Linked DNA regions of Homo sapiens: regions 1, 3 and 4 are each linked to region 2. Evidence: fine-mapped expression QTL. A gene starts in region 2. Each other region holds a variant in brackets. All regions are shown on one strand. Distances are from middle to middle.

What was found.
Region 1: its variant is fine-mapped to the expression of RAB37 in prefrontal cortex (GTEx, PIP 0.91).
Region 3: its variant is fine-mapped to the expression of RAB37 in whole blood (TOPMed, PIP 0.96). The same link has a PIP of 0.9 or more in monocytes.
Region 4: its variant is fine-mapped to the expression of RAB37 in whole blood (TOPMed, PIP 0.98).

The regions. Positions count from the first base shown.
Region 1 is chr17:74,669,325-74,674,472 of GRCh38, forward strand. RAB37-AS1 (RAB37 antisense RNA 1) reads right to left here. Exons shown (of 2, transcript XR_007065904.1): 2 at 736-5,148. It also overlaps a transcript of RAB37 not described here. Among named protein-coding and RNA genes, the nearest start is that of RAB37-AS1, 5.7 kb to the right of the region's middle. The variant G/T (reference allele first, on the strand shown) is at 2,057.
Region 2 is chr17:74,735,191-74,740,338 of GRCh38, forward strand. RAB37 (RAB37, member RAS oncogene family) reads left to right here and starts at 2,066. Exons shown (of 9, transcript NM_001006638.3): 1 at 2,066-2,175. The coding sequence starts at 2,083. LOC124904057 (a long non-coding RNA gene) reads right to left here and starts at 2,149. Exons shown (of 3, transcript XR_007065905.1): 1 at 2,068-2,149. RefSeq lists enhancers at 1,252-1,311, 1,698-2,421, 2,692-2,781, 3,146-3,868 and silencers at 1,552-1,721, 1,772-1,821, 2,022-2,221.
Region 3 is chr17:74,686,709-74,691,856 of GRCh38, forward strand. It overlaps a transcript of RAB37 not described here. Among named protein-coding and RNA genes, the nearest start is that of RAB37-AS1, 12 kb to the left of the region's middle. The variant C/G (reference allele first, on the strand shown) is at 2,178.
Region 4 is chr17:74,565,391-74,570,538 of GRCh38, forward strand. CD300H (CD300H molecule (gene/pseudogene)) reads right to left here and starts at 2,119. Exons shown (of 4, transcript NM_001405511.1): 1 at 1,959-2,119. RefSeq lists enhancers at 3,466-4,196, 4,197-4,926. The variant G/A (reference allele first, on the strand shown) is at 2,157.

The sequences.
Region 1 (5,148 bases), 66 kb before region 2:
TGGTCCTTATCTATCTCTAGATTGGTCTCCCGTTACCCTTCTCCCATCTTTCTCAGGACTCTAGCCACACTGGTCTTTTCTCAGCTCTTCACACCTTAAAGCCTCTGCATGTATCGATCGCTTTGCCTGGAATCACTCCACCACCACCACCCTCTTCGACTAATGCCCACTTTTCCTTCAGATCTCAGCTTAAACATCATTTCTCATGAAAGTCTTCCATCATCAATTCTGGATTGGTTCAGATCCTCTGCTATTTGCTCTATAAACCTGAACAAACAGAATCATGTTTCTGAAGCTTCAGAACTCCAAACAAGACTCTGAGGAGTGACCCTTCCAAGGAATGTGAGGTTCCAGGCAAAGCCTCTAGAATCTTCTTATCTATAATAGTCAGGGTTGGTGAGGAAGCTCAGGAGAAAGTTAAGATGAGCGAGTCTAAGCTATCCGTTCTGTACTTTTTTTGAGTATAGACAACTTTGAGAACTTAATAAAATCTATGGGATTCATTTCTTCTTCTGGAGATTGCCTCTCCCCCAGAAAAAGTCACAGAAGCAAAATTTTGTGTAATGTTATCAATGTTGCAAAGTTCCCCTAACATCCATTTATCCACCTCACATTAAGAACCCCAACCATTGGATGTTATGTATTTGTCACAGGCTGAAAACAAACAAACAAACAAACAAAAACAAAAACAAAAAAAATCAGCCCAGTGAGAATCTCATAAAACAAACACATTGGTTCCCTAGCTTTGTTCATTTAATCAATGTTCATTGAGTATCTACAGTATAGTGATTCCAGCAATAATAACACCTTATAAATGAAATTTACTTTACAATTTAAAAGAAAATAAAGACTTTTCATGTACATTGTCTCACTCTTCCCCCAAACCCAATAAAGTGGGCATAGATTACTCTACCTATTTTGCAGATGAGAAAACATAAGTAATCCCAGGGAACACGAGTGATCTGGTTCACACAACTCAGCCAAAAAGGAGTGAAACCCAGCAGTAAAACGCACTCTTTTAACCCTAAGCCTGGCTCTTTCCTTCCATGTTGATATTGACTCCAAGGGCCCGTGGCTGGTACTAGGACTTGTCCTTAGTAATCTGATAATAATCCCAGGGGCCACAGTCTCAGCCTCCAGTTCCCATGGTGGTCAGCCTCACGCTCTCATATTCCATGTGATGATGCAATTTTGCCAATCAAAGGTCGCAGCAGCAGGACTCCCCTGACGTATAGGAGAAGTAGCCAGAGCTCTTCATCCCCTGCCAGGAGAGCATAGTAGCTCACATTTATTGAGTTCTTAGTACACGCTGGGCACTGTTCTAGGCTTTTTACATGAATTAACTCATTAAATACTCAGAACAAAACCATGAGGCAGGTACTATTATAATATTATCTCCATTTTGTGGACACTTAGGAAAGATTAATTTGCCCGAGTTTGCACGACTAATAATTTTCAGAATCGAGATTTGAATCCTGGAGCCTGTGCTCCTAACCAAACCACCATCTGCCTCTCCTGAGCCCATTGTCCTTAACTTCTTGCGGTCATGTGTGCTGGAGAGAATGTGATCAAAGCCCTGGACCTTCTCCCTAGGAAAACGCAGGTAAACAGAATTTTGCATATTTCAGGGACTTTGGGGACACCTAAGACCCATCTACTGTCGACCTCAGACTTAGAAGCTCTATTTATCTCATACATCCTGGAGAGAATTGTCCAGGGACAAAAACAGAAGCGCCGCCAGCGCCGCAGGACTTCGCCTCTGCAAACGTGTGAGGAGAGCTGCGCTGCGCTGAGCTGCGTGGTGACGGAGATGCCCGTTCGCTCGGGATCAGGAACGGTGAGCTCCTGGGACCGCAATGCCCTGAGAACGCAGCCGGGTGCTGAGCCTCCGGAGTCCGGTAGCTGAATGAAATACGCAGGGATCACCAGCCGGACCCAAATCTTGCGTCCCTGCCAGCATCCTGGAGTCCTAAGAGGCAGGGATTGGAGCGGACAGGATCTCAGAACTCTGGTCCCGGGCGCACAACGGCGGAGTCGCTGTTCCTGGTGCTGAAAC[G/T]CTCAGTCCTGGAAGAACGTGGCCGCCTGCCCGCCTGGTACCGCGCCGCGGCCGCTGCGGGGAACTGTCCAGTGCTGAAAACGGATGCGGCCCGGCCCGCAGAGCTCAGACCCAAGCCTGCCGCACCCAGCGGAGCTCGAACCGAGCTCCTGGAAGCGCTGACGCAGAGCGCAGGGAGAGCCGGAGCGGCGAGCTCCAAGCCTGGCATGGACCTGCAGAGACCCGATTCCTACCAGGGAGGAGCTGGCCCTGACTTCAACGACCACGTCCTGCATAAGGTAAACATCTCCTGTATTCCTCAACCTAACGTTGGAAGAGGCGCCAGCACCAGGAGTTTTCTCCACTCCCCTGACTTTGCTTTGGGACTTAATGAGAAACTAGCTTGTATCTGTGAGTCTGGGGAGCCCTTTCTGTCTGATCCTGTTTCCTGCTCAAAACAGAGATGCGTGAGCTCTTGGGGAAGGGCTGCCGCCAGAGGCTCAGATGGTCAGAAGCTTCATTCATTCACTTACATCATCTGTGTTCCTTTTTCACCCCCTCCTTCTCCTTGCCTATTTATGCCCCTGGGTGACCCCTGGCACCTTGCTCTCCTAACCCTTGTAGGAGACTGCATTTCTCCCTGTTACATCTGCTAGCAGTGGCCAAATACCTGAATTTCTGGCCAATTTGTCTGAAATTAGATAAATGGTCTGCAGCAGAGATGAACTGCTGTTTTCAAATCAGACTCCCTCATGGCTCCAGAAAGCTTCCCTCCAGCCATGATTCCCTCACAGCCCCTGTAAGCATTTGCTTATTTCAAAGCACTAACATATCCATTGCTTCCTTCACTCAAGTTTCTTATGCAACTCAGTTTTCAGTAATGCAGGTCTCCCCCTAAGATAGTTGTTGGGAAAAATAGTAGCCTCTCTCAGGATAACAGTTTTAATTCAAAATCCATCACTCTGAAATAATCAAAGTGTTATATTTGCCATAAGAAGTTATTATGGCTCACCTTCCTTTTCTCTGACTTTGCCATGCCTTCCTGCTCCAGCCCCTATATTTTCTGCTTTGATAATGCCAGTTCACCTGCTAGTCCTTTGAAAAGCTGTACGTGATCCTATAGGTGGAGTTTTTTAATCAAAACATCACTTTGAAGAGTCTATGAATGCAAGCTTTGAAATAACCTAACCCAACCTCCTCCTCTATCACCCAGCTTATATTTGAGGAAACTAAAATCCAGAGAGGAAAAATGACTTGTCCAAGAAAGCAAGCTGGTAAATGGCAGAGCTGATACTAAAAGCCAGAAATTACTACTACACGTGTAGTATTCTTTCCTCTATATCCTTACTAAACTTCTCATCAAAGTGTGCAGTCCATGGACCAGCAGCATTGGCATTACCTTGGAACTTATTACAATAGAAAGCCCTGACCCTAGATTGGCTGAATCTGAATCTGCATTTTAACAAGATCTCTAGGAATAAATATGCACAATAAAGTTTTAGGTGCATGGCTCTGTGCCATGCTGCCTGTTTCTGACACAAATGAAAGAAAATCAGCTATTGAAGGAAGCAGGTCTCTAGATCTGACAGTCCATGTGTCTTCTCCCTCCAGGTCTCTGAATTCCTAGGATATAGAGAAGGAGAAAAAATGTATAACAACTATCCCAGTCTAGAAATTTTAAAGCCATCACAGTTTGAAGTAAACTAGAAGAAATTCTGTGCTATTTGATGTTGTCAATTTAGCCCAGTAAAAACTGCATGCAAGGCCAGGCATGGTGGCTCACACCTGTAATCTCAGCACTTTGGGAGGCCGAGGCGGTGGACCGCTTGAGGTCAAGGGTTCAAGACCAGCCTGGCCAACATGGTAAAATCTGTCTCTACTAAAAATACAAAAATTCGCTGGGCATGGTGGTGTGCGCCTGTGATCCCAGCTACTCAGGAGGCTGAGGCAGGAGAATTGCTTGAGCCTGGGAGGCAGAGACTGCAGTGAACCGAAATCACACCACTGCACTCCACTCTAGCCTGGGCAACAAAGCAAGACCTTGTCTCAAAAAAAAAAAGAAAAAAAAAGTTTATGCAAGCAGAGGAACATAATTACAAATCAATTACAAAATTTTCCTGGCAACTAGATATGTGGGTCTCTCCAAGTTTATACCATCCTATAAAGGTATAAATACTCATTTTGAAAGCTTTAAGATTGGGAGCTCAGATTGTTCAAAATATTGATCAGATGTGGTATTTTCCATTTCAATTACCCACACACGAGATGTAGGATGTAGTCCATGAAGACTGTTACTTCCTTTGAGTTTATTGATCACCAAATTGAGAGTGGGAACCCATTCCAACAAGTTCCAACATATTTAAAGGCAAGTATCTATTTACTACTAGTAAAGGCTCAATGTCATCAGCTTGGCTGTGTGAGCACCCTGAGAGCAGGAGCCAGCCTTAAACCTTCTGTGGTGCCCAGCAGAGTGACATATGTATGTAAGGAAAGTTTTCCTTCTTATATAGTGCTGACAACCTCCTCCTAATACTACTTTATGATTGTGCATGATGTTTTATTGTGATCCACTTAAAACTCTTTTTGTAAAGGGGTAGGGCATCAACTTATTTGTATTATATTAAAAATTACTATGTAGTAGAGTCCAAGGAGTTCCCATTGATTGATTAGTGTCTATTGTCCATGAGAAGCAGGGCTCCCCTCCAACATTAATTGCTAGGATAAATTCTTTTTTTGAAGTGGGGTCTCAGTCTGTCACCCAGGCTGGAATGCAGTGGTGTGATCTCAGCTCACTGCAACCTCTGCCTCCCAGGCAAGTGATTCTCCCACCTCAGCCTCCCCAGTAACTGGAACTGCAGGCATGTGCCACCATGCCTGGCTAATTTTTTGGCAGTTGTTGTTTTGTAGAGACAGAGTTTCACCATGTTGGCCAGGCTGGTCTTGAACTCCTGGCCTCAAGAGATCCACCCGCTCGGCCTCCCAAAGTGCTGGCATTATATGTATGAGCCACCATGCCCAGCGTGGGGAAATGATTTTTTAAATAGACTTGTTATTGACACATAACAAACACCACTTTGGGAAGCTGAGGCGGGCAGATCTCTTGAGGTCAGGAG
Region 2 (5,148 bases):
GAAGGAAGGGAGGGAGGAAGGGAGGAGAGGGGAGGGGAGGGAAGGGGAGAGAAAAGACCGCATACCAGGCCAGGTGCGGTGGCTCACGCTTGTAATCCCAGCAATTTGGAAGGCCAAGGCAGGCGTATCGCCTGAGGTCAGCAGTTCCAAACCAGCCTGTCCAACATGGTGAAGTTCTCTACTAAGAATACAAAAATTAGCCAGGCGTGGTGGCGTGCACCTGTAGTCCCAGCTGCTCCAGAGGCTGAGGCAGGAGAATTGCTTGAACCTGGGAGGCAGAGGCTGCAATGCGCCAAGATCCCGCCACTGCACTCCAGCCTGGGCGACAGAGTGAGACTCCGTCTCCGGGAGCCCACGGCATTGAGCAAACCTCGGCATTATTTGCAGCAAGAGCCTCTGGCATCCAAATAGCAACCAACACCACGCCTCTGTAGTGTGCTGCGCAGCCTCCACACTCCAGTCTGAGGCTCCCTGTTTGAGTCCCGCCCTATGCCCAGCTGAGGTTATAGCACGCTCACCTCCAGAAGAGGTAACCCAAGCTCTTTACTCTACTGGAGATCACCTCTGTCCCCACTCTGGGCGCTTCTCCCAGCTGACAGAAAATACCTCCAGCTGATGTCAGAAAATACAGGGCTGGAGGCTGGCGTACAAAGTCAGTCCCCACAGGCCTATGGTGGCCCATAAGCCACGTCTACCCCTGCTCCTCACCTCCACACCTAAGTTAAGAATTGCAGGCCGGGCGCAGTGGCTCACGCCTGTAATCCCAGCACTTTGGGAGGCTGAGGTGGGCGGACCGCCTGAGGTCAGGAATTTGAGACCAGCTTGGCCAACATGGCAAAACCCCGTCTCTACTAAAAATACAAAAAGAAAAAATAGCCGGGCCTGATGTCGCGCACCTGTAATCCCAGCTACTCCGGGAGACTGAGGCGGGAGTATAGCTTGAACCCGGGAAGCAAAGGTTGCAGTGAGGCGAGATCGCACCACTGCACTCCAGGCTGGGCGACAGAGTGAGACTCTGTCTGAAAAAAAAAAAAAGTGCAGGTACCCCTCTCCAGCTCTCCCCTCCCTACACATCCCTCAAACCGTCCCGCTGTAATGCACCCGCCCTGTTCCTTGGTAACTTGAAGCTGCTTATAGAATGTGGAGATGGGGGTAATTGAAAGGTCGGCCCAGGCCACAGAGCCCCTGAGCTCTGCTACCGGCAACCCCAGCTGCACTCCCCACTCTCTGTCACCAGGAGCTGCCGGGTGCCTGGGATATCCTGGCAGCTCTGCTCAAAATGATCTACGACTTCATGAATTTATTTGGCTCCTCCTCGGGGCCAGGGTGAGTGTCATGGGTTAATAAGGCCGGCCCCGCCTTCAGGAGCGGTCCACTGGGAGATGTGTGCTGCGCAGCCCTCTTGCGAAAGCTCTCCCCTGGTGGGACATTCTGGGCACAACCAACAGGCCGGGGGAAATGAGAGGTGATCCATACTAAAGGGTCAAAGTCCCCGCACCAGGCAGAGGCCCCAAAACACCGCAGCGTACATGTGCTGCAAGGCGAGTACGGGTTGGTAAACAAAACTATATTCAGATGAGCTCGGGCCGGGTGACTTAACAGATGAGGAAGTGTCTCGGGGCCATCGGCGGAGGCGCAGCCCAGGGGTCCCCAGCTCCCCGCCTCGCCACCTGGGGACAGCCCACGGCCCGGGGCTCGGGCGCCGCCTGCTGTCGCGGTGCGCAGCGACTACGGGAACTCTTCCGCAGCAGACGGGGTCCCCGCGGCCCGCTCCCCCAGGGGCAAGCAAGCGACCACAGGGGACCGGTCCCGGGGCTGGATGTGGCTCATGTCCGAAGCGCACGGAGCCGAGCCGGTGTTGCTCAGGGAGGCTGCCCGCCCCTTCACGCAGACCCTGCGGCTCTGCGTGCCCTCAGGGAACAGCAAGGTCCGAGCCGGTGTCGTCGAGGGGGCGACGGGACGGAGGGAGGAGCCTGAGGGGTCCCGGTCGAGGGAGGGGAGGAGTGGGCGGGGCGGGGGTGGGGCCGTTCCTGCGCTCTCCTTCGCCTGCGGGCCGGCACTGCTCACCTCTCGTCCAGGGACATGACGGGCACGCCAGGCGCCGTTGCCACCCGGGATGGCGAGGCCCCCGAGCGCTCCCCGCCCTGCAGTCCGAGCTACGACCTCACGGGCAAGGTGGGTGGGCCTCTTCCGTGAGACCCCCGCCCTCCTCGGCGCTAGCCCCTTCCTGGCTGCGTCTGGGTTGGACTCAGCCCTTCCCCCAGGCAGCTGCGTCTCCCAGAGGAGGGAGGGAGAGAGGGTCAGGACACAGCCTCTGGGGCCGTCCCAAGCTCTAGGTGTCTCTGCTGGCTTGGTGGGGGCGGGTCGCGGAAGATCGCAAAAACTGAGTGATCCCCCCGCCGGCCCCAACTCAGTTCTCTTCTGCCACACTCTGGCAAATATGAGCCCCCGGGAGCCCATGCTTCTTGGTGAGGGTTAAGCGCGCAACTCTCGGGGCTCAGGCTGGGAAGGGCTGGGAGATGGGGACCGAACGGAGACTCGGAGAGGACGTCCCCTGCTGGCAGAGGAACTGGCGTTAATGCCATTTTCCGAGCTAAGCTCTTAGTTGAGATCTGACATCCAGGTTTAAGGCCTGATGTCCCCCAGCTGCTCCCCTCCCATTCCACCCGCTGGAGGCACTGCCTCCCACCTTCCTCCCTGCAGTCGGAAGCCGCTCCTCCCAGAAGGATGTTGCCAGCCGGCCTGCAGGTCACTTGGGAATTTTTCGAACCTGAGAAAGATTTCAGTGGTTGGTCTTTCGCATCCCGCACTTGAGAGAGCTCCAGGGCTGCTCTCTGGGGCTTGCTCCCTCTACAGGGGTGTCCTGTATGGAAACAGGTAGGGACAGCAGTGGACTGGTCTGTCGCCTTCCATCTGTGTCCTTGGAGTGAGCGGGTACCAGAAACTGAAAGAACTGCTGAGGGAGCCTAGAGCTTCCACTCTTCCTCTGCAGGGTTGGGGATGGAGTGAGGGCTGTCCTGGATTCCGCTGCATGGCCTTGAAGGAGACCTGCCTCTCTCTGGGCCTCGGTTTCCTCCCCGACACCAGGGCTCACCCTTGCTGGGAGCCTCAGCCTCCACCCCAGTGTTTCGGGGGAAGCCACCCTGCAAGTCATCCGCCCAGAGCCGTTGAGATAGGCGTCCTGTGTGGGCTTGTGGCAGGAAATGGGCCCCTGCACCCTCGGAGAGGAGGAGCTGCTGTTGGCCAGGCCCCAGGCTGAGGGGGACTGCCTGACCTTGTTGCCCTGCAAACCAGCTGGGTTGTTTGCCTAGGAGGTGGCCAGGCTAGGCAGCTGTTTGTGTTTGGTGGAATCACCGAGCTGGGTGGGTAGCTGGCATCGTTTGCTCAAGGCAGCTGTGATCTGTAAAGTACACAAAGACTGGCCCTCCCTCCCTCCTTCCTGCTCCAGGGCTGGGACCCAGGAGCCAGGGAGGAGTGCAGGCTCCAGAAAGCTCCTATCCCCCACCCCTTCATCTGTTCCCTGGCCAAGCGGCATTGGCCGGAGAGTTGGTCCCCAGCCTCCCCGGGCCTGCCCCAGGGGAGTGAGTCCAGGACCCTCTGAGAAAGCCTGGCAGGAGCTCCTTGGACCAGACTAGGGGTGATGTGGCCCACAGGCAGACAGTTCCCACCCTGGGCCACTCTTCCCTGGGTCTTAGGTGATTCACCACGATGATGGGCCCTAGCCATTAACAGACTCTAGAAATACCTCAAAGACATTATCCCTCCTCCTTCTACCCACTATGGAAACCATGCCACAGAAAGGTTAAGGAATCTTCCTAAAGTCACACAGTAGGCCATTTACAAATCAAGACCCATCCTTCATACCCCTTCTGCTCAGCCACCCCTGCCTCTCCACCAGAGTTAACTAATGCCAGTACCCCATGCCCACAACAGGAATGCCTTTGGGCTCCACTGTCAATTTCAGAGCCTCAAAAATAATTCAAACCTAGTCCCTGCTTAACCCATTAAGCCACCTAACCAGCAGCTGGGAAATTCCAGCATTGGATCTAGACCCCTGTTATCCAAGATTGGAGAACAGTGGGACAAAGTGCTCCTCTCCACCATTCCTGCGTGTCCCTGGGGAAGATGAGCAGAGCAGAGCCAGACAGTAAAGGAGAGGGCCACGCCCCCTCCACAGGTTACCTCCTTGGTACTCCTGCCCGCACTACCCACAGCAACCCCGGGATGCCGATCTGCAGCCACATGTCCCATGTGGGAGGTTTCTGCTGAAAGAACTTCCAACTACACATCTCCCCACTTCAGTATAAATTTCAACCTTCCCTAATTCATGCAACCTTTTTTTTTTTTTTTTTTTTTTGAGACAGAGTGTCGCTCTGTCACCGAGGCTGGAGTTCAGTGATGCAATCTCGGCTCACTGCAACCTCTACCTCCTGGGTTCAAGCTATTCTCCTGTCTCCGCCTCCCAAGTAACTGGGACTACAGGCGTGTGCCACCACTCCTGGCTAGTTTTTTGTATTTTTAGTAGAGATGGGGTTTCACCTTGTTGGTCAGGCTGGTCTCAAACTCCCAACCTCAGGTGATCCGTCCACCTTGGGCACCCAAAATGCTAGGATTACACACATGAGCTACTGCACCCGGCCTCATGCAACCTTTTAATAAACATAAAATGTCATTAGAAACTTCCAGTCAGGCGCGGTGGCTCACGCCCGTAATCCCAGCACTTTGGGAGGCTGAGGCGGGCGGATCACCTGAGGTCGGGAGTTCAAGACCAGCCTGGCCAACATGGAGAAACCCCGTCTCTACTAAAAATAAAAAATTAGCCAGGCGAGGTGGTGCATGCCTATAATCCCAGCTACTCAGGAGGCTGAGGCAGGAGAATCATTTAAACCTGGGAGGTGGAGGTTGTGGTGAGCCAAGATCTCGCCATTGCACTCCAGCCTGGGCAACAAGAGCAAAACTCCATCTCAAAAAAAAAAAGAAAGAAAGAAAGAAAGAAACTTCCAAATAAATGTTGTGACACAAAAAAAAAAACCCAAACAATATTCATTATAGAGTATGCAAATGACCATGCCCCACCCCCAGCAGATTCTGATAGACTCCCTTGGGTGGGAATCCTTGTCCAATATATTGACACTTCCCTTTCCTGTC
Region 3 (5,148 bases), 48 kb before region 2:
GCTGACTTACTGTACCTACATCTCCACTGGTTCTTTCCCTTGCCACCTGCCAGACAGCTGGATGTTACAGTGCAAGGATGCAAGGTCTCTGGGTCGCAGTCCTTCTTTGCTTATTATTAATTTTGCAGAGGCTGTGTGAAGTTTGAAATAAGTGCACCGTCTGAATTTCACAACTCTTTCCACTGAACTGAGGGAAGGCACCGGGCAGTATAGCTGAGATCAGGGCCTGTGACCTGTTGCTTCTTTGTCGTGGAAACCCTCTGCGTCATTGATAGAGGGCAGCATTCTGCATGTAAATGCCAACAAGTGCCAGTGCTCTGCTCTGCTCATAGCAGATTTCTACTACACAAGGGTGCAGAATGTCCCTCCTGTATTTCTGACCTTGGGGGACAGTCTTTCCCCTCCCTTAATTCTGAGCCCCTCCTCAGAGGTACCTTCAGAAAAACAAATGAGTCAGTCACCTTTTCTTTTTATTTATTCAGTTTATTTTATTTATTTATTTTATTTTTATTTATTTATTTATTTATTTATTTGAGATGGAGTCTTGCTCTATCTCCCAGGCTGGAGTGCAATGGCACGATCTTGGCTCACTGCAACCTCCATCTCCCAGGTTCAAGCAATTCTCCTTTCTCGGCCTCCCAAGTAGCTGGGATTACAGGGGCCCGCCACCACACCCAGCTAATTTTTGTATTTTTAATAGAGATGGGGTTTCACCATGTTGGCCAAGCTGGTCTCAAACTCCTGACCTCAGGTGATCCACCTGCCTCGGCCTCCCAAAGTGCTGGGATTACAGGCGTGAGCCACCACACCCAGCCAAGTCACCCTTTCTTGATGCAAGAGTTGCAGACCCTCAGGACAGAGCCATGTGAGGATATGGTCACAGTGGACTACTTTGGGGAAGGGGCTTGTGCTGGGGCAGGGGGAATCTGATTGCTTCAAGGGTCCCTTTCACAACTACTGGAGAGCTCCACAGCTCTCATTAGTGACAACCTTCATCAGCCTCCAAACAAAGAGGGTCACTAGAGGCCCTCAGGGGAAGCCTCACTACACCAGCGGAGATGTGATGGAGCGGGTCCATGCCTGGAGAACAGTGTGAACCGGATCCATGGCTGCCAATTCTCAGTCCATACCTAAGTACCAGCCCCTGACAAGTACCAACTGATGTGTAGGAAACGATACACACACATCAGTAGATGTTGGCATAAAGTTACCAACTGTCCTTTCTTAGGAAATACTGTCTATTATCCTGAGACTTGGGGTGCTCAAAGCTCCTTTCTTTTATGAAATTATGGTGACAATGGATTGTTGAATAGAAACTTTGTTAAGCAACCCCTCACTTAACCAACTTATTAGGTCAACCAATACCCTTCAGTCTCTTACTGGAGCACACTGACTAAGCCTGAGGCACAGAGTGCTCACAGCTGGCAGGCTCTTCTCTGCTCTCACAGTTGTGGTACCTGGTTAACAAGAATGCATTTGGGCCCATACTTGCTTATGCTGGTCATACGTGTTAACTAGAATGATGTACTTGAATCAATTCACCTGTAAACAAAGGAATTGGCCGGGCGTGGTGGCTCACGTCTGTAATCCCAGCACTTTGGGAGGCCAAGGCAGGGGGATTACCTGAGGTCAGGAGTTCGAGACCAGCCTGGCCAACATGGTGAAACCCTGTCTCTACTAAAAAATACAAAAAAATTAGCCAGGCATGGTGGCAGGTGCCTGTAATCCCAGCTACTTGGGAGGCTGAGGCAGGAGAATTGCTTGAACCTGGGAGGCTGAGGTTGCAGTGAGCTGAGATCACGCCACGGCACTCCAGCCTGGGTGACAGAGAAAGACTGCACCTCAAAAAAAAAAAAAAGAAAAGAAAAGAAAAAGAAAATACAAAGGAATTTAAACAGAAAGACTATTGACCAATAAAATAAGAGTGTAAAAAAAAAGAGAACGGTTATCTCTACAAAAACTAAACTGCTTTGGAAAGACACTATAAAAGCCTGTCACTTTTTAAAATGCTATCAAATTAGGAATGAATGAGAGAACTGTAAAATATCGGAAAGAAATGCATAAAAATGAAGAAAGATTTTGCAATCAGGTGGCTTCATAAGTTTCTAGAATTTCTTGCTTCATGTTAAAGAAACTGGAACTGAAACCCCAGGATCATGTGTGTGTGGTTTGTGCTT[C/G]AGGAAAGGCAATGGGCCCCACTTTTCAGCAGACTTGTAAGCAAAGCAAAGGCTTTAGGTCTACATCAAAATACTTGCTAATAACTACACATTTAGATATTTTAAGTCAAAATAAAACATGTAGAGGAAAAATAGCCTTGGCGCAGTGGCTCAAACCCGTAATCTCAGCACTTTGGAAGGCTGAGGCAGATGGATTACTTGAAGTCAGTTCAAGACCAGCCTGGCCAACATGGTGAAACCCTGTCTCTACTAAAAATACAAAATTAACCAGGTGTGGGCGAGTGTGGTAGCTGACACCTGTAATCCCAGCACTTTGGGAGGTCGAGGTGGGCAGATCACCTGAGGTCAGAAGTTCAAGACCAGCCTGACCAACATGGTGAAGCCCCGTTTCTACTAAAAATACAAAAATTAGCCAGGCATGGTGGCACATGCCTGTAATCCCAGCTACTTGGGAGGCCGAGGCAAGAGAATCGCTTGAAGTCGGGAGGCAGAGGTTGTGGTGAGCCAAGATTGCGCCACTGCACTCCAGCCCGGGTGACAGAGCAAGACTCTGTCTGGAAAAAAAAAGAAAAAAGAAAGAAAGAAAAGAAAAAATACAGTATATCTCTTTTATGAGTTCCGGGTTTAACAAACTTTTTCAATGAACTGACCAATTACCAATTCCTGTGAAATTGAATAAGAATTTACCTACTTGGTTCAGACATATTTGACTTTGGCAAAGAAAACTGAAAAGCTAAAAAAAATGTGCCTACTTGGTAGAATAAAAGGCTGATCACTGTATCTGTCCTTGCCAATCTAAAAAATTTATTGGTACATGAAATCAACCGATTCCAGCAGTCTCCCCTTTCCAAGGCTAAGCAGCTTTGAGCTCTATTTTTCAAGATGTCAAGCAAAGGTAGCCTTTCACCTCACTTGAGTGCAAATTTATCTTACTCATGGATTTTGGAGGTTGCCAACTCAGTAGTTTTTTTTTCTCCCTCAACTACTCTCAAACAGTACTATCTTCTGAAAGCCAATGATATGCACATAGTTCTCAAAAGGAGGCTGTCCAAAGCTTACAGGCTTATCAAGTGGAATCTTTTTTGACATGAGGCCTCACTCTGTCCCTGAGGCTGGTGTGCAGTGGTACCATCTCGGCTCACTGCAGCCTCAACTTCCTACGTTCAAGCGATCCTACCCCCTCAGCCTCTGGAGTAGCTGGGTCTACAGTCGTGCACAACCACACCCAGCTGATTTTTTATTTTTGGTGGAGATATCCTTTTTGTAGGCCTCCCTATGTTGCTCAGGCTGGTCTCAAACTCCTGGGCTCAATCGATCACCCACCTTGGCTTCCCAAAGTGCTGAGATTAGAGGCATGAACCACGATGCCTGGCCTGGAATCTTTAAATATTAATAATTCAAAAACCAAGAAGGGAAGCCCCAGCAACTTTAGATGGCTATAAATAATTAGGCACTCAATCAGGATTGAGTGCTTAGAAATCTTGGAGTTTGTTTTAACACAATGTGCTTTCCTGGAAATCATATAACAAGATAGTAAATGCTACCCTCACTCAGACCTGAGGAACCATATTTAAGATGGTTCCTCTTGCAATAAACGTGCTGGCCAGCCACCCAAATTCTGCCTTAGCAAAGTCATGATGGGGTGCGGGGATACGGCTGAGATGACACCCAGATACAAATCTATAGACATTATGAAACAATTTCCTTTCCTGCCTCTTGCGTATATCTGCCTCCCTCCTCTCGCCCCAGCTACTTCTCTAGCACTCTAAACTCTAGCTCAGGCTTGAGCAAACCGGGCTGGATTAGCAGCTGACTCCTACAGTCATAGCACTGCACAGAGAGAACCCAGACACTTCCTATCAGGACCACAAGGCAGAGATCTGCTCTGTCCAGCTCTGGAATTGACTGGACTGGCTCATGACTGTCAACCTATTTCTGAGAACATAAAAAGGTCCCTTTCAGACTGCCACCAATTCAGAGGGCTAGAATTTTAGATAAAAACAGTATATCCAGTAATCTGTTCTCTCTTGTAGACACTTCCTCGTTTTTTTGAGACAGGGTCTCGTTCTGTCACCGAAGCTGGAGTGCAGTGGCATGATCACAGCTCACTGCTGCCTAGAACTCCAGGGCTCAACTGATCCTCCTGCCTCAGCCTCCCAAGTAGCTGGGACCACAGACGCCTGGCTAATTTTTTTAATTTTTTTGTAGAGATAGCAATCCTCAAGCAATCCTCCTACCTCAGCCTCTGGAGTAGCTGGGACTGCAGGCGTGCGCCACCACACCCAGCTAATTAATTAATTATTGTAGGTCTCCCTGTGTTGCCCAGGCTGCTCTCGAACTCCTGGGCTCAATCAATCACCTGCCTTGGCCTCCCAAAGTGCTGGGATTAGAGTTGTAAGCCACCATGCCTAGCCCAGAATCGTTAAGAATTAATAATTCAAAAACCAAGGGAGGGAAACCCCAGTAACCTTAGATGGGTTTATCACGTTGCCCAGGCTTGTCTCAAACACCTGGACTCAAGTGATCCTCCTGGCTAAGCCTTCCAAAGCACTGGGATTACAAACGTGAGCCACCATGCCCGGCCTGTAGACACCTTTTTTCAAAGTTTGACTAAGGCAACCAAAAGGGATCAGAATGGATCGGTCTTCCCATGCTGTTTCACTGCTCTTCAGCAGCCCATGTCCACCATCCAGATGAAGGTAGAAGCAGCCCAATTCCTCCAGCCAAGCCAAATTGAGCTAAATTCTAGTCTTCCCTGTGCGTCTAGCTTAATGTCAGAAGTTTCATGGCAATAATCTTCACTGGGATCTATGATTTTATATTACCAGAAAAGATGAATCCGTTTCTATCCAACATAAGCATATACTTATACATTCTGGGTAGTGCTGGCTGCTTGAAATAAACTCTGAAATAAATCCACTTTATGCACAATAGTTGAAATGGCACAGTTACGCTCTGATCTAAGGCCTTA
Region 4 (5,148 bases), 170 kb before region 2:
TGTCTACCTATCAACTATCTATCTATCTATCTATCTATCTATCTATCTATCTATCTACTATCTATCCATCCATCCATCTTTCATCTACCCACCCATCCATCTAGGTAATATATTGCCATCCACTGATGGAGAGGCTTTGCTATATTTTTATTGTGAATTAAAAGAAAAATCTGGCCAGGTGTGGTGGCTCATGCCGATAATCCCAGCACTTTGGGAGGCCGAGGCAGGTGGATCACCTGAGGTCAGGAGTTTGAGACCAGCCTAACCAACACGATGAAACCCTGTCCCTATCGAAAATACAAAAAATTAGCCGGGCGTGGTGGTGGGTGCCTGTAATCCAGCTACTCAGGAGGCTGAGGGAGGAGAATCACTTGAACCCAGGAGGTGGAGGTTGCAGTGAGCCGAGATCGCACCACTGCACTCCAGCCTGGGCGACAGAGTGAGACTCTGTCTCAAAAAAAAAACAGGAAAACTTTATCTTTTGCATCTTCATTTTCTTATCTCACGTTTTCTCACTTTATTTCCCAGAAAGCAGGCTCGAGTGGCCCACTGACCTATTCTGCATTAGAAAGCTGTCTGCCTCTCTGAAGCAGTGATTCTCACCTGGGGGGCAGGGGGGCGGGGAGGGGGCGGGGGGGCAGGGGGGCGGGCGGGAGAACATTTGGTAATGACTACAGATATTTTTGGTTGTCCCAACTTAGGGTGGGGAATTGCTGCTGGCATCTGGTGGGTAGAGGCCAGGGATGCTTCTAAACATCTTACAATGCACAGGACAGCCCCCAACACACAGAATAACGCAGCCCCAAATGTCCACAGTGTTGAGGTCCACGAGCTTTCCCAGGGAGCTAACTGCCTGCCAGGCACAGGCTTAGGAGCAAGGAAGGGGTGGGCACACCCAGTCCTCTCCTGAAATCGCTGCTGCTCTCAGCTCAGGCTCTGGGGGCGCTGTTAGCCTGCTCTTTCAGGTCCTTAAACTTCTCTCTTAATGATTTGGGGCTAATTCCACAAGGAGCAAAAACATTGTGGGGCACACACTGAATCCCACCACAGAGCCTCCCTCTCCTTGGATATTCAGTCCAGACCCTGACTCTGAGCCAACATGGGCAGCCTCCTCCACCTCCACCCCCACCATCTTTTACGGAGCTTCCCGCCTACCCAGCCTTGCAAAGAAACTGACTTTCTCCCTCCACCATCATTTACGGAAACTCTCGGACCAGGGCTGACCACAGGTTCCCAGCTGTCTCACCCTTCTGGGGGCCCATTAAGTAGCAGCCCTGGGGCCAGCCCAGACCTGTGGGGACACCCAGGGTTCCCACGTGGGGATGCAGCATATGCCTCCAGATATGTAAGTGAAGCTTTACAAGGAGGCGCAGCAGACATTGACATTGAATTAGAGAAGGAGCAATGATCTTGGAAATAAAAGTATTTAGGTTTGGACCTTGACTGTGCCTTTTATAAACTGTTTAATCTAAATTATTTGCACCTCTAAGAGCGAGCTTCGGTCTCTTGTTTTCATCAGGATTGCAATAAGAATTAAATGAGATAGTGGGAAACAAGATATGTATTACAGTGATTAGCCTAGTAAGTACTGGTTTTCTGTCCCCTATTCCCCCTTCTCTCTGATGGATCGTGGTGGCATTCCTGATCTTAATAATGACGGTAATAATGATTAAAGTTGCCAAATCTACTTAGGGCTTACTGTGTGGGAAGCAGTTTACCGTTTAATCCCCACCCTATCCCGATAAGGAGATTTGAGAAGCTTCTATGCACACCTCACTCCCTCTTTCTTGATATCATTTCTTCCTCTTGCCCCTCGCCAGCCTTTTCTCATGCCTGCCTCACCCTGACCCGCCAGAGCAGACCTCCCTGCACCCAGGACCTGCCCTGCTCATCTGGGACACAGAGAAGGAGCAGAGCTGAAGGCAGCATGGCAGCCCCAGCCCTCTGGGTCATCTCACCAGCATGGAAGTCCCTTGTGGCAGCAGGGTCTGAGGCTCTTTTTCCTTCTCACATCTCTCGTTTCCTTCTCTGGCCTCTTCTGGGTTTGGTTCTCAGAGCTGGTGAGAGTATGGAGGAAGCTGGGGCCATGGGGCACTATGTGGTCAGGTGAAACAATTTTGAGAACTTGCTGAAGTTCTTCCTAATAAAACATGTTT[G/A]CATTTGCTGTTCCTCTTTCTGTTCCCAGTAAAGACAATGTCCCTCCCATTACCCACAGCTGACAGGCCTGCCCTTCTCCAAATCACAGCATGGCCCAGGACCAGTGAGACTGGGCCAGCTGCCATCTGGATTTTCTGGGCAGGTCCTCCCCTCTGTGAATGGCCAGTTTTCTGTGGCCAGCATGAGCCGCCCCAGGGTATGGCTCAGCCTTCACTGGATGGATGAGACTGGCTATTTGCAGAGCCCAGTGTAAAATCAAACCTAGGTTTCCAAAATTATTAAGAATTTCAAGATGGTGACAGCCAAGCATGAAACGTGGGACCCTTCTAAGAGCCGGGCCTGCGAGACTGCACAGGGTAGGGGCACACCCACGATGCCCGCTGGTCTATCTCTGATCCTTGGTGGTACAGATAGGCTGGGTGCAACCTCAGAGGCTCTGACCTCTTAACCCCTCACTCTTGCTCTGACCTCAGCAGACCCCAGAGGTCCCTGTCTTGGCCACGTGCCTGACTGTTTCCACAGACCTGGCACCACGCAGAGCTTGGTGGACCATCTATAAGCCTTGCTTTTGACCTGTGTGGCTCTTCCTGTCGCCCAAGATGACCACATATAAGAGTTTCAATATATCAAGAGCTAACTCGGGGGAACCTGGCCAGAAGTGTGCCTGATATACACAGAATGGCTGTGGAGGATTTATAAATGCAAGCACAGCTTCAGAAGGCCTCACTCAGGGACTTAGATTTCTGGAACTAGGAGACTCCAAATTCCTGGCATTCTGTTATCAAATGTCTCCTCCTTGGTGTTTCAGTAAATGTGTTTCCTGCTTGTTCATTTTTTGCTGCATGTGGAGTCCTCATATTTCTGTGTGTGTTCACATGTGTGTATATGGGTGTGGTATGAGGGATATATGTGTAGTGTGTGTGGTGTGGGTAGTGTGTGTAGTATGTGTGGTATGTGTGTATGTAGGTACATGTGATGTATGTGCATGGTGTGTGGGATGGTGTGTGTGTAGTGTGTGTGTATGTGTGGTGTGAGTGGTGTGTGTGAGATGTGTGTAGTGTGTGTGTATGTGTGTGGTGTTTGGGGTCGTGTGTGTGGTGTGAGTGGTGTGTGTGGTGTGGGTGGGATGTGTGTAGTGTGTGTATGTGTGTACATGTGGTGTATGTGTGTGATGTGTGGGGTGGGGTGCATGTAGTGTGTGTGTTTGCATGTGTGTGTGGTGTGTGTGCACAGGTGGTGTGTGTGTAGTGTGTATGTGTGTGCACGTGTGTGGTGTGAGATGTGTGTACATGTGGTGTATATGTACAGTATGTGGGGTAGGGTGTGTGTAATGTGTGTGTGGTGTGTGTGATGTGAGTGGTGTGTATGAGATGAGATGTGTGTAGTGTGTATGTGTGTACGTGTGTGTGGTGTGTTGGGTGGTGTGTGTAGTGTGTATATGTGTGCATGTGTGGGAGTGTATGTGGTGTGTGCGTGTCCATGTGTGGTGTACGTGTGTGGTATGTGGGGTGGTGTGTGGTGTATGTGTGTGGTATGTGGGGTGATGTGTGTAGTGTATGTATGTGTGTGCATGTGTGGGCGTGGAGGGTGTGGGTGGTGTGTGTGTACATGTGGTGTATGTGTGTGGTGTGTGTATGTGTGTGCATGTGTGGGGGGTGTGGGTGGTGTGTGTCTACATGTGGCGTATGTGTGTGGTGTGTGGGGTGGTGTGTGCATGTGTGGGCGTGGGGAGGTGTATGGGTGTGTGTGTGTGTACATGTGGTGTATATGTGTGGTGTGTGGGTTGGTGCGTGCATGTGTGTGGAGGGGAAGCAGGAGCTGGGAGTGATAAAGATGTCTCCCCTTGCAGCCTGCAGAGCCGGTTGCGAGCCCCGCCCTCTGTGCCTAGCTCTGGGCGCTAAGGAAAGGCTTGCCTGGCCCTCCCTGACTCTGCGTCAAGGGCTGCTCAACGTGCCTTTCTTGGGAAGAAGGGATCTGAGTCTGTGAAGGAGATGACGCACAGCTGCAGACTTTTCCAGAAAACATTCTCGCCATCCTTGTCTGGACAAACCACCGGGTGCACAGGGTTGTATTAGTCAGCTCTTTCTGGCTCACATTGCCATAGCAAAACTCCTAATCCCAGCATGCTGTAACCACAGAAGCTTGTTTCTCGCTCGTCTATACGCAAGCGGTGAGTCAGCATTGCTTGGGCACCAGGCTGCGGAGCCCAGTCCGCTAGAGGAGAGGGAAGGCACCGGGTGGCTCTCTGAGCCTCTGCTCAGAAGGCGCACATGCGGCTCCTGCTCACCGTTCATCGTCATAGGGTCAAGCCTGAAGTCAGTGGGAAGGAGAAGCACAGTCCTCTTACAGGACAAGGCGGCAAGTCACTGACCACAACCACAGAACCCACTACTGGAGGTTCCCTAACCGGGCTGGAAGGGTGCCCCGCAGCACACCGACTCCGTGCTTCTCGCTCATCCAAGGTCGGGGCAGGGAGAGGCTGCAGGGTCTGCTTAGAAACAGCCTGTGTGTGTTTCATTTTTTTAGCTAGGACCAGACAGTTTGCCAAATGCAAAGGACATGGCAATGCCACAGGGAACCCACCTTTGAAGCAGATGTACTCTGGGCCCTGGAGTCCCCCAGGAGATGACAAATTCCTTGAAGAGATGACCCACATCTGGGACATCCAGGCTTTTTCCATGTCAAGGCCAGCATCTGGAGCCGCTGTCCCTTCCCCAGCAGGCCCTTGTCCTTCTGTCTCTGAAACCTGTCCTGGAAAATGCTGTCCGCTCCAGGAGGGCAGAGCTAGGGGAGGACTGAGAATAATGAACACTGGCCATGAGGCACAGGAGGGCGGGGAGCCCGGGGCCCTGCCTGGCACTGCACCACACTGAGACCCCCACCATCGCTGCCCTTGAGGGACAGCTCTTGGGGCTTCCAGAAAGTTAAGATCTCATCAGTGAGGGGTGCGTTCTTAGGGCAAACTCGGGGCATGTGATGTGTAGGACAGTG